Regions from separate parts of the Homo sapiens genome. Here region 1 is linked to region 2. A link means that fine-mapping ties the variant in region 2 to the expression of a gene that starts in the linked region. Tissue or cell type: lymphoblastoid cells. Region 2 holds a variant in brackets; the other region holds the start of a gene. All regions are shown on one strand. Distances are from middle to middle.

What was found. PIP is the estimated chance that this variant, and not a neighbour inherited with it, causes the effect.
Region 1: it holds the start of LINC01800, and the variant in region 2 is fine-mapped to the expression of LINC01800 in lymphoblastoid cells (TwinsUK, PIP 0.95).

Annotation. Positions count from the first base shown.
Region 1 is chr2:64,858,669-64,866,349 of GRCh38, forward strand. It overlaps LINC01800 (long intergenic non-protein coding RNA 1800), which reads right to left and starts at 4,963. Exons shown (of 5, transcript NR_110224.1): 1 at 4,746-4,963. RefSeq lists silencers at 627-921, 959-1,478, 1,238-1,441, 6,950-7,149 and an enhancer at 1,769-1,988.
Region 2 is chr2:64,898,824-64,909,374 of GRCh38, forward strand. It overlaps LINC02245 (long intergenic non-protein coding RNA 2245), which reads right to left. Exons shown (of 3, transcript NR_036586.1): 2 at 6,168-6,312; 3 at 3,017-5,797. It overlaps LOC124906172 (small nucleolar RNA U13), which reads right to left and starts at 9,863; the gene lies at 9,764-9,863. It also overlaps the pseudogene RN7SL211P. RefSeq lists a silencer at 5,285-5,479 and an enhancer at 5,672-5,966. The variant C/T (reference allele first, on the strand shown) is at 4,854.

The DNA of each region.
Region 1 (7,681 bases), 42 kb before region 2:
AGTCACTTCCTACTGTTGGATTCATCCAGGGTGAGGGCCTGGTGGGGCTGCCAGGCCCTGAAGTCCAAGCTCAGGGAAGCGAGAGCAGTTTACCTCTGTGACATTGCTGGTGTGAGCCAAGGCTGCGGGTTCCAGGAGCTAACTTGGGATTCCGTTCAGGACATGACACAGAAGTGAAGAACTCAGGGAACTTCATATGTCCCCATCACCATAGGTGACCTGTGCCCTGCCATCATGGGGGGTGACGGGAGGCTATGAATGTTAACATAATGCAGACTGACAAAGACATCCTCTTTTGTCTTCCTTCCTCTTTGAGACTAGAATGTATTTTCTGAGCTCTCCTTTGCTTTGCTTTTCTTTTGGGTACCATGACCCAAGGTACAGTATAAATACGTCAGTATTTGTAGCCTGTAGAAGGTCACTCAAGAATGTGCATTTGTAACCATCTGGGGAGAAAATAGGCTTTGTCAGTGAGTGTTTCCTCTGGTACACTTATTACACTCTAGCAAGTATCATGTACGGGAGATGAAACAGGCAGCTGAAAGGTGTCCCGCCTGTGCACCTTCCTGCTGGCCCAGCGTCTATTTCCAGCCTCCTCTCCCAGGGTTGCTGAAACCCGGAGCTGATTTCTACATTGGAAGTTAGGAGCTGCAGGAAACGCCTCGTGCCGTGCCGGGGACGTGGAGGAAAGCCAAGTGCCCTTGATAGGCTCCTCCTCTGGAGCTAGGGAGTTCCCTGGATGGTGGCAGGAGGAGCTGCGGTTCTGCAGCTGCTGCGGGCGGGGCAGCTGCTGGCGGCACTGTGTCTTGGGTTTGACCTTGACCCCTGGGCAACACAGGGAGACTTTCACACCCTTCACCCTTGCATCACTCCACTCAGAGGTGCGCAGGGCCCAGCCCCAGCTACAGATGAGGAGACTGAGGCTCGGAGGCTCTCGGACCGCCCAAGGTCTCTGGGCAGATCAAACGGTGGAGAGAGGCCAGAGCCAAGTGTCTTGGCTCCCGGGCTGGGAGAGGCCCCGGCGTGGCCCTCTGGAGGCCGCCGTCTGCGACTGCCCGGGCGCCCTGGGGCGGCAGCCTGGCCTCCTGGGCTCGAGGCAGGGGGCAGAGGTGTCCCGGCGGGGCCGGGGCCGGGACACGAAGAGGGAGGCGAGCAGGGGCTAGGAACTGGAGCCGGTTTGTGCTCGCGCGCCTGCAGGCCCTTTGCCTCGGGCACCCCCGCTCCAGCCCAGCGGGGGCGGCGCCGAGAGGGGCCCATGGCCCAGACGGAGGCTCGGGCTGCGTCCATTGGCGGCCGCAGCCCCGGGGCGGGAGGGGGAGCGGCCCGGCGTCGGGTTACCGGGGACCAGCACGGCAGCTGGCCCCGGGAGGCAGCCGCGGGGTGAGGGTGCATTCTTGGATTCCTGGCCGGGAAGGGAAACCAAACCGCACTTGTATCCAACGCAATCAACAAACATGATGTGTCAAGTGCTGTATTGCACTTGAGCGGGTGTAAAATGGTAGAGCTGGGGTTCCTGCCCAAACGTTCGTCTAATTGAGGAAATAAGAAATCCACAGAGAAGAAGAACGCTGGAGATACCGGGAAGGACATAATAAACCCCGAGAACCACGACCAACCGAATTTAGAGGGGTTCCTGGAAAGGGAAGTCTGTTTTTCCCCAAAGTCTTCTGGAAAGCTTCCACAACAGGGCGAGGTGAGGGTATCCGACCTGCCACCTCCCTCCAGGGCCTGCCACCTGCCCCAGCCGCCCCCACTCACCACAGCACACATGCCCGACCCCACACTGCTGAGCACCCAGCAGCCAACCCTGCCTCCACCCTGCCTGCGCTCCCCAGTCTTACCCCAGGCCTCTACTCTCAAGCTCCTCCAAAACTAGGACCCTCACTTTCTTCTTCCAGAAGCCCACCTGCCCCCAGGACACTGCTGCCCTATAGCCCTCTCCAGTAGAGGCTCTTTTCTCCCTCCAGCTATGCAGCTCAGGGCCTGAAGATGTACTCCGCATTGATCACTGAAGTTTCTAAACGGTTTCTCCTTCCTCTTTCAAAAGCCCGGCCTCTTAGCACAGCGAAACTACTAGATGTGATACTATAATGGTGGATAAATGTCATAATACATTTGTTCAAACCTACAGAATGTACAACAGCAAAAGTAATGTAAAGTAAGAATAAAGCATTCACATCAATGTAAACTGTGGACTCGGGGTGATAATGTGTCACTTAGGTTCATCAATTGTAACAAATGCTGGTGGGGAATGTTGATAGTGGGGGACACTGCTCCCAGGAGGGTGGATATATAGAACTCTGGATTTTCCACTCAATTTTGCTGTGAATCTGAAACTACTCTAAAAAGTATTAAAAATTAAAAATATTTAATTAAAAAAGCCACAAATCACCCCTCCTAATGTCATCTGTCACCCTCCTAGTCACTTCCCCCAACCCTTGATTATTTTAGTATCAGGCTCTATCTCCTTTCATATCATCATTTTTGGTGACTTCAGCATCTATGCTGATGACCCACCCAACACTCCGATCTCTAAGACTGTTAATATCCTTAGCCCTAGCAGAATATTCCTCCTGCCCTGCCTCAGCCTCCTGGTCATATGCTAGATCTTGGAACCATGAATGTCTACACCATCTCTAAACTCTCAGATCCAGAGATCCCTTCACCTATCAGTCCTCCAGGTCACTTACTTTAGTTCTTGGACTCAGCAATTTTCCCATCTCAGACCTCTATTCCATGACTCTCCTGTTTTCTCATGACATCTCTCCCCTCAGGCCTTCGTTCTCAGCCAGCTGAGAACTGAAACTCCATGCTCCAGCACACAAAATCTCCCTGGCAAACACTCCTACCTTCCTTGCTCTGGTCTCTCTCCATTGTATTCACTGGGCGAAAACCCAGCTGTGGTTAAATCAAACTGTTTACTTCACACCTGCACCTGAGCAATTGAACACCACTAAAGAAAATCGGCCAGCTACTCTGGATGGACTCAATTCAAATTTCTGGCCATAAATTTCAAACAGGCATTTGAACTGTTGGACAATCCTACTACAGTTACTTAGAAAATTCCTTTTCCCTCTCCGCAGTGCAATAATGTCACACTTTCTCCTCTCTCTGCATATTCTCAACTCCCCTTCCTCTTTCATTCTCACTGTAACCTCAGACTATCCTTCATAGAGAAAGTAGGTACGATCTGTTGCCGGATCTTCCTACCTCCCTCCAAAGCCACCAGAATGCCTATAGCTCTGCATTCTCTCCACCCACCACCCATGGCCGAGCCCTCCATCTGTGCCCTGGGCCCCATCCCCTTTTGCCAGCACAATTATCCCCTTTCTGTTGTGTTCATCAATTTCTTCCTTCCTACCAGAGCCTTTCCATGGAAGTTAAATGGGACTTAAAAAGCTCTAAAGCCTTAGCCTCATATCCCCTTCTTGCTATTATACCATGTTTCTGCCCCTCTTTAGAGTGACTGTTCCTGAAAGAGTTGTCTACACACTGACATCTCCACCTCCACACTTCTCATTCTCACTTCCACCCACTCCAACTGGGCTTTTAGCCCTAGTTGTCTGTTTTAATAGCTCTTATCAAGGATGCCAATGACTGACATCTTAAGGTCACATTGGTGGCCAGTTCACCATCCTCTATTCATCTGGCCTGTCAGTGGCACTGAATGCGTTTGACCACTCTCTCTGTGGAAGACTGAATTATGGGTCCTATTTCTTGTCCTGCCTCACTCTATCCCTATCCCCTTCAATCCGACTCTGCAGTCCCTCCCGCTAGATGTAGACTATACTGTACTTTCTTGCCCCTTGACTTTGGGCGTGGCTGCATGACCCCTTTTGGCCAATGGAATGTAGGAGGAGGTGACATGGTGCCAGTTCCAAATCTAGGTCTTTAGAGGCATTTTATGTTTCCACCTGCTTTTTTGTGCCTATTATCACCATGGGAGAAAAATGTGCCCTAGCTGGCCTGCAGGTACAAAAAGAGTGAGGGACATGTATGCAGAGCAGGCTCAGCCCAACGGTGGCTTAGAGCTGCCCAGCCAACATCAGCCTCATCTAGCCAACCTCCAGCTGACTCACAGCTTTGTGAATCAAATAAATATTTACTGTTATGCCATTGAGATTTTTGTGGTTGTTTGTTACCTAGCAATAGCAGACTGATACATCCTCTTTCTCAAAATACTTCCTTTGCTGAGTTCCTTGTAATCACCATCTTCTGGTTTTCCTCCAGTGTCATGGGCTGTCTTCCTCAGTCTGCTCTGCTGGGTTTTCCCCTACCAGATCTCTAAAGGTTGGAGTGGCATCAGTCTCAGCCATCTGCTACCTTCTTTCTTGACTCTCTCCCTAAGTGGAATTATTCTGGCCTACTGCTTTGAAGACTACCTACATGCTGGTTCTCAAATTTAAATCTGAACTCCAGACTCAAAGCTGTCTACACATATTTACCTGATGTCTGATAGGTCTTGGCATGGCCCAAACACAATTATGGATCCACCTCCTACCCCCAACATAGGACTACCCAGTTAGTCCTGGGTCAGATCATCAGTAAGCCTTATCTATTCCCACCTCCAAAACTGACCCAGAAACCAGTATCACATCTCACCATCTCCATAGCCACAACTGTGGTTTTTAAAATCTCCTCCTGCCAGGACTTTTGCAATAGTATCTTAACTGTTTTCTTCACTCCCCACCTTCTAACCCTCCAAAGGCTTCCCACTGCAACAAAATAAAACCCACACTTCTTACCTTGATCCATGAGGACTCAGCTACCTATGTTCCCAAGGCCCCTCTATTCTTCTTGCTCACATTGCTCCAACCACGTTGGCCTTCACGGTGTTTCTTAAGCATAAGGAGCACATTTCTGCCTCAGGGCTTTTGTTTTTACTTGCCTTTCTGCTTGCAGCACTCTTCCCCAGATCACCACATGGCTGCCTCCTTCCCACCCAGAAGGTCTCGAATGCCACCTCCTCAAAGAGACCTTCCCTGGCTAAATAAAACAGCACCCATCAACCTACCACACACACGGATGCACCCACATGCACACACACACACCCCTCTACCACAATACTCTAGTTTAGCTTCCTTTTTTTGTTATTTTTAATTTTCTTTTGCAGAGGCAAAAGAAGACACTTGCTGCCCAGGCTGGTTTTGAGCTCCTGGCCTCAAGTGATCCTCTTGCCTTGGCCTCCCAAAGTCCTGGGATTATAGGCGTGAGCCATGAGTCTACTCTGTTTCTCCCATTAAAATATAAAATCCTTAAGAACAGGTATTTGTCTCAGTCTCTGATGTATTACCAGGGCCTAGAACATGTCTTGTACATAGTGGACTTTCAATAAATGCTTGTTGATTGACTGACTGATGCTAGAACTGAATAGAGAAGGGATACAATTGGCTAGATTGTGAACATGGGAATGAATGTCCCAGGAAGGCAACTGCAGAAAGGCTGGAGAATTCAAGATACAGTATATCCAAGGGGTTATGAGGGGCCAGGCTGGCTACAGGAGAGAATTCATGGGGAATGAGGGAAGAAACTTCTGCATGGTGGAAAGACTTAAATGCCATCACTCCCAGTCATTGGAGATCGTGGGTGCCCCTGAGGGTTACAGATCAAGGACGTGATATGTTGAAAGCACAGGTTTTAGGATGATTAGTAGGGTTGAAAGGTATGCATTTCTGAGTGTCCTTAACTATGTGTCTTCCCTTGGGATCCCAGAATTTTAGAAGACAAAGACATCTAGAAGAATCTGAGAGCCCAGGGGAGCCAGAGAGATTGGTCCCCTTGGATTCCAGATGCAAGAAGAAGCCATTACCCAACCTTTCAGGGACCGATACTGAGTTCCCGGTTCAGGAAGTTCTCCCTGTGTAATTAAGGATTTGCCAAGCGCACAGCCGGCATTCATACACACGTGTTAACGAGCTGGTGCCCCAGTGTCCCTGGGCTCCCTTATACCCTCCCCCGACACACACACACACACACACACACACACACACACACACACACACACACACACAGTTGCTTTCATGTACCCAGTGGCTGAACACAAGCTTCCCCATACCCCCACCCCACGGATGCATCTCTAACCCAGCTACTTGCCTTCCCAGCCCCCTCCACCCAATTCTATTGTCAGGGCTGAACAAAAGGCCCAAGGCATCCTGGGTTAAAGGATTTTTAACTCTGCCAATCCCAGGAGGCTCCAACATGAAGCAGCTTCCTGCTGGAGAAAAGTGACTGAGACATCTCCCCAGGCGACAGGGGAATTTTTTTTTTTTTTAATCTGGTCTGAAAAACAGAACCTAGCCGCCAATCAGACACTCCTCCCCCCAGGACCCCACCCCGGAGACCTCCCAGCAGTCAAATGGGCCTTGAGGTCTCTTTCCTGATGACTTCTATTTGCAGGCGTCAGGCTTGTTGCTTCCCACGTCCCCCCCGACCCCCATCAGACCGGACTCTGGCTCTCCTCTCCTCCCGCACCTCCCCCACCCCGCCCTGTGCCCGGTGGCTGCCCCCGGCGCACGGACAGTGCCCCCTCCGCCTCTCTGCTCCCCGGGAGTGCCGGCAGTGCCCGGGCAAGGCCAGAAGCCCAGGCTAGGCCCCCTCCGTGGGCGCGCCAGGTTCTGTGCCGCGTCGTCCTTCCCCTCCTTGGGCACCGGCTCTGAACCTGCCCGGCCAGAAACCGAACCCGTTTTCAGGAGGAGCGCCTGCGGGCGTGCTGGCTCCACGCGCGGCTCTCGGGGCGGCCGGGTTCGGGCGTGTGCGTTTCCAGGCGCCTCTGTCCCCAGCGGGAGGAGCGGCTGTGGAGGGGGCCTGCTGGCGGCTCACCCCAGGCCCGGAGGGTTCGGGAACTAAACCTGCATCTGGTGTCAAAACCCCTTTTTGCCCACCCTGGCACTGACGTTAAGCATGCATCTTTTTTCCCTGAAGTTTTTTTTCCGTAGAAGACATACTGGGTAAATTAGAAACATGTTTGAGAAAGGAGTGAGCGGCGAACGCTGGCATCTAAACAACACAAAAGTGCCCACGCCAGGCCACACGCCCAGGCGGCCGCGGCCTCGGCGGCGGCGCAGCGCCCCCTGGCGGCCGCGCGGGGCCCCTACCGAGCCGCCCCCGGCCGTGTCCCCTCACCTCCCCTCACCTCCCACGCTCCTGAGCCGGGAGCAGCCGGGAGGGCCAGGGAGACCCCTGCTCCCCCAAGTCAGAGCAACAGTGGGACACTTTGGGAGGAAGGGAATGAAAGGAGTCCAACGCCAAGGTCCTGGGGGATGCTTTCTGTGGTTTCGTGGCTGGCGCCGAAGTCAAGAACCTAGGGAAGGAGCCAACATAAAAGAAAACCCTTGATCCATTTTCAATGAATGCCTGAAATTCTACCAATCCAGCATCATCCCTTCACCTGCAGGCTTTGATTCCTTTTAAAATGCAAATGCCTCAAGGAAGGGGAACCCTTAAAACAAGGGCAGATGGCAGGCTACATCAAGAAATCACCAACGTCACCAAAGAGACATGATTACGCCATGATGTGTACATACTATATGGTAATGGCGTTTAATAAGCAGCGTTTAATCTTTTTTTTATTCCTGTTGTTGGTTGTCCAGGCATCCTTTTGTACTCTGACAAGCAGTGTTTCTTCAGGATGCCCCGCCCGCAGTGGCCAGACCCTCTAGTTCAGTTGCTCCAAGTTTTCTTA
Region 2 (10,551 bases):
TAGGTATCCTTTACCAGTTACCTTGTGCCACACCTTTGAAACAAGGGAGCTGTCTAGACTTCCTTCTGATGGCCAACCCACTTCTAATGCCGGCCACTCTATCTCACACAAAGTTTTCCTGGTGTCATAGTAACTCCATAGTCTCCACTAAATCCTTCCTTGAAATTTTCCAACATAGTTCCTAGCGGAGTGGGCGCTTACTTTGCGTTGCACCCATCTTCCTCCCGAGACAAAACAACACTCCCACCACAAGAAGGAAAGGGTAAAGGGGTCACTCACTTGTCTCGCCCATCTTAAACTCAAGCACTCACTCACTTTCACTTTCCTTTTTGCAAACGAGTCAAGCCAAATCAAAATCAATACTGAGACCAAAGTGCTGATAAGGGCACACCGTGGTTGATCAGGCCTCGCTTCCATTCAAATGGAGTGGGCAAATTCCCAGAACCAGCCTGTTAAGCAATTCAAACCAAGTCAAGAATCAAAACCAAAACCAAAGTGCCGACAAAGGTGGGCTGTGGGTGATCAGGCCACGCTTCCACTCAAATCGAGTGGGCAAGTTCCCAGGACCGGGCCTACCGTATTCCAGATGTCCAGACTCCAAGCGCCAGTTCCTTCCCGGTGTTCGGCTGCTGCATTGATCCTCCGCGGGGGCCTGCAGTGCACTGCTCTGACGAGGCGTTCCACCGAGGCAAATGCCTACCCTGGAGCGCTCTCAGGATCCGCATCGCTCAAGCTGGCCGGAGTCCCCCGTAGGAATACTTCCCAGGGCAAGCCTAAGCTGCCTAAGGGGCTGCCTCGACCGTCCATCAACCACCTCTCTTCCTGGTCAGGGAACCAAGAAATGAAGCAGGACAGCCGCGGACAAAACCCCTCAGACACCCGGCTACGAAGGATTTGGCTTTATTGGGCTGTGAGCCTCGGCAGACTCGCGTCTCAACGGCGGGGAGTTTTGGCAGACTCGCGTCTCAAGAACCGAGCTCCAGGAAGCCAGAGTTTTAAGGCCTTACAACTCTAAGGGGTTCCATGTGAAAGGGTCGTGATAGATTGAGAGCACATGCGGTTAGAGTCGGGGGTTAATCTTTTAACCTCAGGCCTGGTCATCAGTGGCACTGGCTGGTCTTGCCACTGACTTCATTCCTGTTGTTTTTCAACTTTTACTTCCTCCTTCTCTTCAGAGACAGGAGACAGTAAGAGAAATGGCCTCTCTCCTCATTATGACGTGTAAATATTGCCCAACTTTCTACAAGGGACCCTTCTTCTGGCCCTTCACTGACTCATTAATCCTAAAGGAGGAAAACCCATAATAATTGCTTATTTCTTTCATAGCACTCAGAAAAATCAAGGCCAGGCGCAGAGGCTCGTGCCTGTAATCCCAGCACTTTGGGAGGCCAAGGCAGGTAGATCGCTTGAGCCCAAGAGTTCAAGACCATCCTGGGCAACACAGTGAGACCCTGTCTTTACAAAAAATACAAAAATTAGCTGGGTGTGATGGTGCGTGCCTGTGTTCCCAGCTACTAAGGATGGTGAGGTGGGAGGATCGCTGGAGCCCAGGAGGCGGGGATTGCAGTGAGCCAAGCTCATACCACTGTACTCCAGCCTAGGTGACAGAGTGAGACTCTATCTCAAGAAAAAAAAAACTTAATGAAAAATCAATAAATTAGTTGGCTCAATGAATACAAAATTTGTTTTGTTTTGTTTTTTTCAGATGGAGTCTCACTCTGTCACCCAGGCTGGAGTGCAGTGGCACAATCTCGGCTCACTGCAACCTCTGCCTCCTGGGTTCAAGTGATTCTCCTGCCTCAGCCTCCCAAGTAGCTGGGACTATGGGCGTGTGCCACCACGCCCGGCTAATTTTTGTATTTTTAGTGGAGACAAGGTTTAGCCATGTTTGCCAGGCTAGTCTTGAACCCCTGACCTCAAGTGATCTGCCCGCCTTGGCCTCCCAAAGTGCTGGGATTACAGGCATAAGTCACCACGTCCAGCCCCCAGTGAATACAAAATTCAACAAATGTTAGTCAAAGGCTCTTACGGAAAAGGCTTGTTGCAAGACTGGCGGATGACATGCTAATGCTAGTGTCCTCCTAGAAGATGCACACTTGGCACCATATAGGTCAGTTCCAACCAGAAGTTGATTTCTGGACCCCAGGGGCACTTGTGTTTAGTAGCTTTCTCTATGAAGCCCAGTAACTATGTCCACTGTTATGTAAATCTCTTCCAAACTTTGGGTTCAGTGACTTCACATTGGTAGCCTGAAACTGGCCATGCGATGAGTTATTTACACCACAGGAATTGGCAAACACCATAAATCAGCTCATCACTGCATTGAATTCCTCGAGTTGAGGTGGTGTCTGTAAGTTCAGTCTCACACCACAAGCTGAGGGGCACTCACTGGGTCAGCAGAGATATTTGAGCCTTTAAGGAGTTATAGCACCAGGGGCATTTGCCCCTGCTCTGCTGGACACACGTCCTTGCAACAGTGTCCATTTCCATGTGGCTGTCTTTGGGTATGTCTGACCTGCTAGGAGGTTCTTCTTGCTCCTGTTTCAGCAGTCAGTCCATCTTCCAGACACTGGACAAACCTCTCCGTGGTTTCTCCGTGGCTGGAGTTAGGCTTAGAGTTGAAGCTCACAGGGGCTGAGTCAAGGTGAGAATGAAACAGACACAAAAGCCCAACAAAAGAGGAAAACAATGCATATTTGATAACCGAAAAGGGGGCGGAGATGGGCTTTTTCTTAATTTTTGACTGAAATTATTGGCATGGTTGAATTCATAGTCTTCCTCCCCACCTCCAGCTCTCCTGGCAGAATTCTATAGCCACTAGCACAGTCTCACTTCTTTTCTCTTCAACTGTCCTTATGAGGCTTAGCACACCTTGTAATAAAGACCAGGCAAGAGAAGACCGGGGAAGGGAGAACAGAAAACCAGCTTGCCTAGGAAGCAAAGAACACCATTTGAGGAGGGAGGTGGAGGTGCTAGAGCAGCTATGGGGTACGAGAGAAGTAGATGGAGGAAGACGGGGGATTAAACGCATTGTTTTATTATTCTCTGAATAGGTAATATATGCACATGGTACACAATTACAGAGGTCTCCCACCTCCCCTCATCTGTGCACCCAGCAGCCCCATTTCCTCCCTAGAAATAGCCTATGCCATCAGTTCTTCACATATCTCAGGGATTCCTGAGAATATTCCACCTCAAGGGCTCGCAGGCTTCCCTGGATGAGAATCACCTGGAGGGCCTGTGCAAGGACTGCTACCACCAGCCCCTGGGGGTTCTTTTCTGATTCAAAGGCTCTGGTGAATTTGCCTTTTCTTTTCCTTTCTTTTTTCTTTTCTTTTCTTTCTTTCTTTTTCTTTCTTTCTCTCTTTCTCCTTTCTTTCTTTCTCCCTCTCTCTCTCTCTTCTTTCTTCGGTGGAGTTTCGCTCTTGTTACCCAGGCTGGAGTGCAGTGGTGCAATCTCGGCTCACCGCAACCTCTGCCTCCCGGGTTCAAGCGATTCTCCTGCCTCAGCCTCCCAAGCAGCTGGGATTACAGGCATGCGCCACCACACCTGGCTTTTTGTATTTTTAGTAGAGACAGGGTTTCTCCATGTTGGTCAGGCTGGTCTCAAACTCCCAACCTCAGGTGATCCACCCACCTCGGACTCCCAAAGTGCTAGGGTTACAGGCGTGAGCCACTGCACCCAGCCTGGGAATCTGCATTTCTAACAAGTTCCCAGGTGATGCCGATGCTGCTGGCCCAGGGATTACACTTTGAGAACCACAGTTGTGGAGGTATTCACAGAAACCCTTTCAATACTCTCTCTCTCTCTCTCTGAAGTAATTTGAGTATCTGTGTCTGGCAATGGAAATGCCTCTAAGACAGCATTAATACAGCACAATTCCTTCCTGTGGGCCTTCCCTATGCTGGACTCTTCATCTGGAATACTCTCATCCCTCACCTCCACATGTCCAAGGCCCAGTTCAATGGCCATTTCCTCCAGGAAGTCTTCCTTGGTTCTCTCCCTATACTGCAAGAAGTCTTATGCTCCTTTAAATTTCCATAGGAGTGTTTGTCTGCATTCTTCTAAGGGTACCTGTTATTTATTAGAACAGTATATAAAAAATGGGGCTCTCTTTGCCTCAATTTTTATAATTTTTGTTAAAGAGATATCAGATCCCAAAATAAGTCTGAAGGAGACCATCAAATGTAGTATTTACGTTTCAAGATTCTTGGTCCTCCCTCCCCTGGTCAGCTTGGGGTCTATAGAATGGTTGAGGTAATTTTTGGATGATTTCTTGGGAGAGTGCTATGCTGTAAGCCTACAAGAGGAAAGGAGAAATTAAATGGAGCTGTCACTTCCATACTCCAGAGCCTAGAGAGCCTGGGTTTCAGTGGCCACTTGAGAGCTTGATGAGGGTTCTCTGTAACTGGGGGAATCCGGGGACCAGTTTCTGAGACAGTGGAAGCAGCCTGGGGCCAGGCAGAGAGAGAGGAGGAATTGCCCTCCACCAAAGGCAGAGCAAGGGGAGCGTTGTTGCTTCTTGAGGACCAGTGGAAAGTCTCCAAGGCAGCCATTGTGGGGGCATCTGAAATCCCACCCAATATAGCCGGGCTGGTAGGGGCTGTGTGGTGACCTCAGCTGAAAGGAAGTGTGAGGTGAACTTCACATTCCCATGGCTCCACATGGCAGAGTCCTGGGAATGGTGGACAAGACCCCAGTTTGGGGGATCTCTGAGGAACACCCAAAACACCCATAATCACAAGAGTCACCTTTACTCACCTGCCATCCAGAGGACCTTGAGATTTGGAGACAAGGGCACCACCTTGTGATTTTACCCTTTCTCCTATGGGCAGGAAGCTCATTCACCTGC[C/T]GGTGGGAAAAGGAGGGGTTGGGGGAGAGAGAGTGAGAGAGAAAAGCTACCCCATCTCCCTTCTCAGGTGGCTGGGGAGATGGAAGAACATGTAATGCCACATCAAGTTCAAAGCCTTGATTATGATATAACACTGGGCATTCTCCTGAAAGGAGACAGTGGTTGTAACTCAGAGGGGCAAAGGACTATAAGACTGCTGTTTCCTAAAGGTGGCAAGACAGGGCATAGCCCTGCTGAAGTTTCATCAGGGGCAGGCAAAGTCATTCCTGTTATTGTTATGCACCATGTTTGCTTAAAGTTTCACACACACACTGCATAAGCTTTTTCTTTCCCTCACTATGTCATGAACTCCCTGATATCCTGGCATGTAACACCTCTGTGGCCCTTTTGGTGCCTAGCATGCCTAGCACCATACCTGGCACATACAAGTCTACAGCTGATAGTTGCCCATTTATTCATTGATCCTTGCTTTCAACATGTATTGAGAGCCCATGTTGGGTGGTAGCAAGAGAGCAGGAAATGAAATGCATGTGACTTGTGTTCCAGGAGCTTGCTGTCTGCAGGGGAGGTGTATGAGAAGTGTCTGCAGAGCCTCACCCCACTCCAAGGGGAGCAAATTCAAGCCCACGGGCACCAGGCAGGAGCGTGAATAAGGGAGGCAGTCTCTAACTGCGACACCTTGGGCAAGTCTAAGACGATAAACGTGTTGGCAATTCTGGCAGAACAGGGCATCCACCGTGCCCCTCGGAAGGTGGCAGCTGTTCTTTATTGCCTTCTGAGAATCCAAAACGACTGTTGCCAGATTGCCTGCTTCTCCAAAAGAGTTTGAAATCTGGAGTTGCATGTAAAATGTCACCAAAAAAAACCACATCTGTAGGTTCCTTCAGTCCAAGGGTCACGGTCCGGGGCCACTGTGCTGTTGTTGGCTCTCTCCCCCGGTGTTCCTGTTTATAAAGAGGGGGTGCCAGTCATTGTGAGCCACGTGCTGCTTCTTTAGGAATTAATTAGTCAGGGATTTGGAGCAGCTTTATACAAAGAACTTAGCTGTGTGAAAACACTCCTTGGCCCAAAGAAGAAATATTTTTAAAATCCCAACCCTAAGTGCTTAATCTGCTAAAATGTACAACAAATAAAAATAACGCTTGGAAAAGAGCTTGCTTCCTCTTTCAGAAGAGCCCCTGTGGCCTCTACAGTCTGACTACAGGGAAGGGGCCTTTTCTGCCAGTGGTATGACAACAAGCCACAGACTTACCAAACCAAGTCAGAATTTGAAAGGAACTAGTTGACAGGTGGCATTCACTGCAGCTTTATTACCTGGAAAATAGTTGCGTCCGTTGGAGATGTAGTGACAGCTTCTAGGGCTGATCCCCCATGGTGGGGCTGTCCTTTGAGCTCCTGCTCGGACACTGCTGGGATCCAAAGGCCCAGGAGCCAGACTGTAAATGGAGCTGGAGAAGTCCTAGGAGACAACACAGCAGGCAGCCCAGGACAGTTGGCTACCTGACACATGTCTCCATGTTCTGGGTCCTGTTCTGGGGACAGTCCCAGAGGTAGCAATCTATACAAATATAATGTATGACTGCCTTGAGGTGCAAATAAGGCCATGTTTCTCATTTTTATCATTAACTCCCATCTACCTTTATAAGCAGGAAATCTGATCATCTAAACATCCCTTTAAACCTCCTAAGAATCCTAAGCACTTGGTTCCAGGAAGTCAGTACTGTGTCTGCAGGTCTGATGGAGAGAATGGGGAAGCTCCCCTGACGATTGTTTCAGTGGCTGCCACAAGGTGTTGTTGTTGGAGACTGTTTTTGTGCAGACCTGCACACAGCTGCCCTACACTTTGGGCGGAGGCCCTTGCTGGTGCAGGCAGGTCTTTGCCAGCCCACAGTAGTGCTACATGCCTGGCAGTGTGAAGAAAGTGCAGGGCTGTAGGCCAGCGCTTGTTGCAGCACAAATTGGAATGGGGAGGGGCCGAGGGTGTGTCTAACCTGATTTCTCAGCTGGCCACCCTGAGATATCAGGCAGGCCACCAGAAATTCTGTTTCCATAAAGATCCCATAACTTTCTAGAAGGGCAGCAAAACTTAGACTGGCCTGCACTAAGAGAAGGCAGTGGGCGTGGTTAAGAGCACAGATTTTGAAATCAGATCTACTTTGGCTCAAATTTTGACCCTTTAATAGCTGTGTGATTTGGGGCAAGTTGTTTAATGTTTCTGGGCATCAGCTTCCTTGTCTATAAAATAAGGATAAAAACACCTATTTTATAGTTTGGAGAGCTAAGCCATGTAAAAAGCTCAGCATCGCGTCTAACCATGCCAGATTCACAATGAAAATGGCCACTGTTCGGGTGAAGGAAAAAACTCCACTGTTGCCCTCTGAAGATTTGCTGAAAATTCGACTCACAAAAGACAGATTCAGTGGAGGAAGAACATACACATTTATTTTATTAGAGTTAACGTGATAAGGGAGGCTTTAGGGTGAAGACCCAACCCCCCAGTGGGGTGTAGAGGCTTATATGGTCTAATTCTTTTTTTTTCTCTAACTTGCTTCAGAGGAAGATACCCTTCTTCTCAGGGGAAAGGGCGATGGGGAAGTGTGGATGATTTTAGAGGAGTAGTAAATGATGTTTAGGGGAATTCAATGGGCTTGAAGAACATACAATGGCCTGGGGCAAAGCTTGTTGGGCCCAGAGAATGGACAATGGTTTGTGACAAAAGTCCATCAGGTGTGTGGGCAGACACTAGTCTTTTTTCCTATAATATGGATTCAGTTAATGAAAACTCAGAGAAGGGGCTAAAGGCAATTCTTTTCATCTTTGGTAGGTGCAGACTTTAGGCAGAAAAGGGAGCTTCAGAGAACAGCGTCCTCCTATGCTTTGGGAGAGATGGGTGGGGAAGGGGAGGTCAGAGAGACCTTGAGGCTCCTTTTTCAGTTCAACATGTACAAATGGCCATATTTTGGGGTATTGGTTTTTGAGCCCCGATACCACTCATAGGTGTTTTATTTAGGCATTAATTGTGCCATTGTTTTTAAAAAAACAAAAGGACCTGTTATAATTTGAAAACTGCAGACAATGAATACATTTTAGCTAGAAATTTTGATAAATTGGATATATTGAATAAGGCTTTCAACCTGTTTTATATATTTTTTTAGTTTTTATTTATTTCTTATTATTATTTTTTTTAGAGACAGCGTCTTGCAATGTTGCCCAGGCTGTAGTACAGTAGCTATTCACAGGTGCAATCCCATTACTGATCAACACAGGAGTTTTGACCTGCTCAGTTTCTGACCTGGGCTGGTTCACTCCTCCTTAGGCAACCTGGTGGCACCCCCGCTCCACTTAGTGCAAACACCTAATGGTCACAGTGTGCTACAGCCCAAGGCTTCTGGGCTCCAGCACTGTTCCCGCCTCAGCCTCTCCAGTAGCTATGACTGCAGGTGTGTGCCCACCACACCCAGCTATATTCTTATTTTTAAAGATCAAAATCATAGAACAAATGTTTACTCTCAAGTCCTATTCAGTGATGACCTTGTGTAGTACTTGACATAGAGTTAAGTTGTCACAGTGTCTGGTTTTTAGCTCTTGTGCTCTTAGACAACATAAATGCAGACAGTCATGGAAGGGCTGCCCAGCCCACGCTACCACCTCTGAGCCCTTACATAAGCTCTGTCAGGTTTACCTTCCTGCTCTGGATTGATTTCTCCATAGAGGACCTTGCCTCCTGCTTTGCTGAAAAATCAGAAGCATGAGGCAGGAACTGCCTCAACTTCCTGCTGCCAAATCTCAAGTCTCCTGAATCCAGCTTCCCATTTTGCCCTCCCCTTGTCCAGGTGGCGCAGTCCCTCAAGGCCAGCGCCCCCACACCCTTTCACCTCTTTCCTCCTGCCTTCTCAGGACACTTGCATTAACCATCACTCCAGATCACTCTGTATTTTCAACCTCACTTTTTCCCGGATTCTTCCAATTGGCATCAGACTACGTTCAAAATTCATTAAAGATAAGAAAGTGAAGATCCTTTTATCCACCACTATTAATTAGGAAGCAGGTTTGACTGCTATAAAGTCCCCAAATAATCAAATCCACTTAAAAAGCTTAAACAAGATGAAAGTTTACTTATTTCTCACATAAGCTGGCAGGGCAATACCTTAGTGGCAGGGAGCTCAGCTTCTTAAGGGTCCTCACTCCACCATTCCTAGGGGTGGCCTTGTCTCCACAGTTCATGATAACTCTCACTGCTGTAAGCAGCATCGGGAAAGAGGGATGGGGAGATGGAGAGCCCTTCCACATGAGGGTGTGACTTCCAATCACCTCCCAACAGGCCAGAATTTAGCAACATGGCCATGCTTAGCTGCAAGGAAGGCTGGGGATCAGCCATTATTCTGGTACCCAGTTGATACCGTTTGGATATTTGTCCCTGCCCAAATCTCATGTTGAAATGTAATCCCCAATGCTGGAGGTGGGGCCTGGTGGGAGGTGTTTTGATCATGGGGGTGGATCCCTCGTGAGTGGCTTGGATCATCTCTTTGGTAATAAGCGAGCTCACACTTTAGTTCACATGAGATCTTTTCTTTATAAATTAATGAACCAATTAAACCTCTTTTCTTTATAAATTACCCAGTCTCAAGTATTTCTTTATAGCAATACAAGAATGCCCTAATATACCAGTTAAACACAGAGACTCTATTAATGTACCAGGAGGGAGAATGGGTATAGGGTACAGCAAGCAAGTCTACTCCTGCACACCTTATCCCCCCTAAGAACAGCCCAATCTCAATTTTCTCCTTCTCACCCCAAGTTTTCAAATGAGTTGTCCACATTCATCATCTCTACTTCCTCTCTGTGTTTGTTTTCCACATAGAAGAGAATTTGCAAAAGTGTTTTGAAGCAAGGGAGAATTTTTTTTCTCATGTCAGATGCATAATGTGCTGACATATAACAATGTTTGAGGGAGGCACATCTCATTCATAAGCGTGAAAACCCAGTCATTATGCATAACTGCAAAAGGATCAGAGAGAATATTATACAAGTTCATTCCTTGAAGGTGGGACTAGGGGTGGGTTGAGCTGCTTAAGAAGACCTGGAAGGCGAGGTCCAGGGAGCTAAGTAAAGCCATGGAAGGAGCTGTTGTTGTCCAGGGATGGGCTGAGTCAAGGAGGCACAACCAGGAGGCAACCCATGCTGGGGGCTGAGAGAATTGGATCGTGTGTGAAACTGAAGGAAGGAGAGGACACACGTGGTAGGAAGAGGGGATCAGACAAGTGTGGGGGAGGCAGATGGGAGGCAGTGAAGGTGCCTTTTAAATTCCTGATCTCATGCTTTGTAAATGTGGTGATGGGGGCACCTTTTCACATGGTACCAACCGTGCTTTCCCAGAATGGGGTAGCTCCTTAAAGAAGACATATACACAGAAGGACGAAATTCTTTTTTTTTTTTTTTTTTTTTGAGTCAGAGTCTTGCTCTGTCACCCAGGCTGGAGTGCAATGGCATGATCTCGGCTCACTGCAACCTCCGCCACCCGGGTTCAAGCGATTCTCCTGTCTCAGCCTCCTAAGTAACTGGGATTACAGGTGCCTGCCACTATACCCAGCTAATTTTTTTGTATTTTGAGTAGAGATGAGGTATCACCATGTTGCCCAGGCTGGTCTTGAACTCCTGACCTCAAGTGATCTGCCCGCCTGGGCCTTCCAAAGTGCTG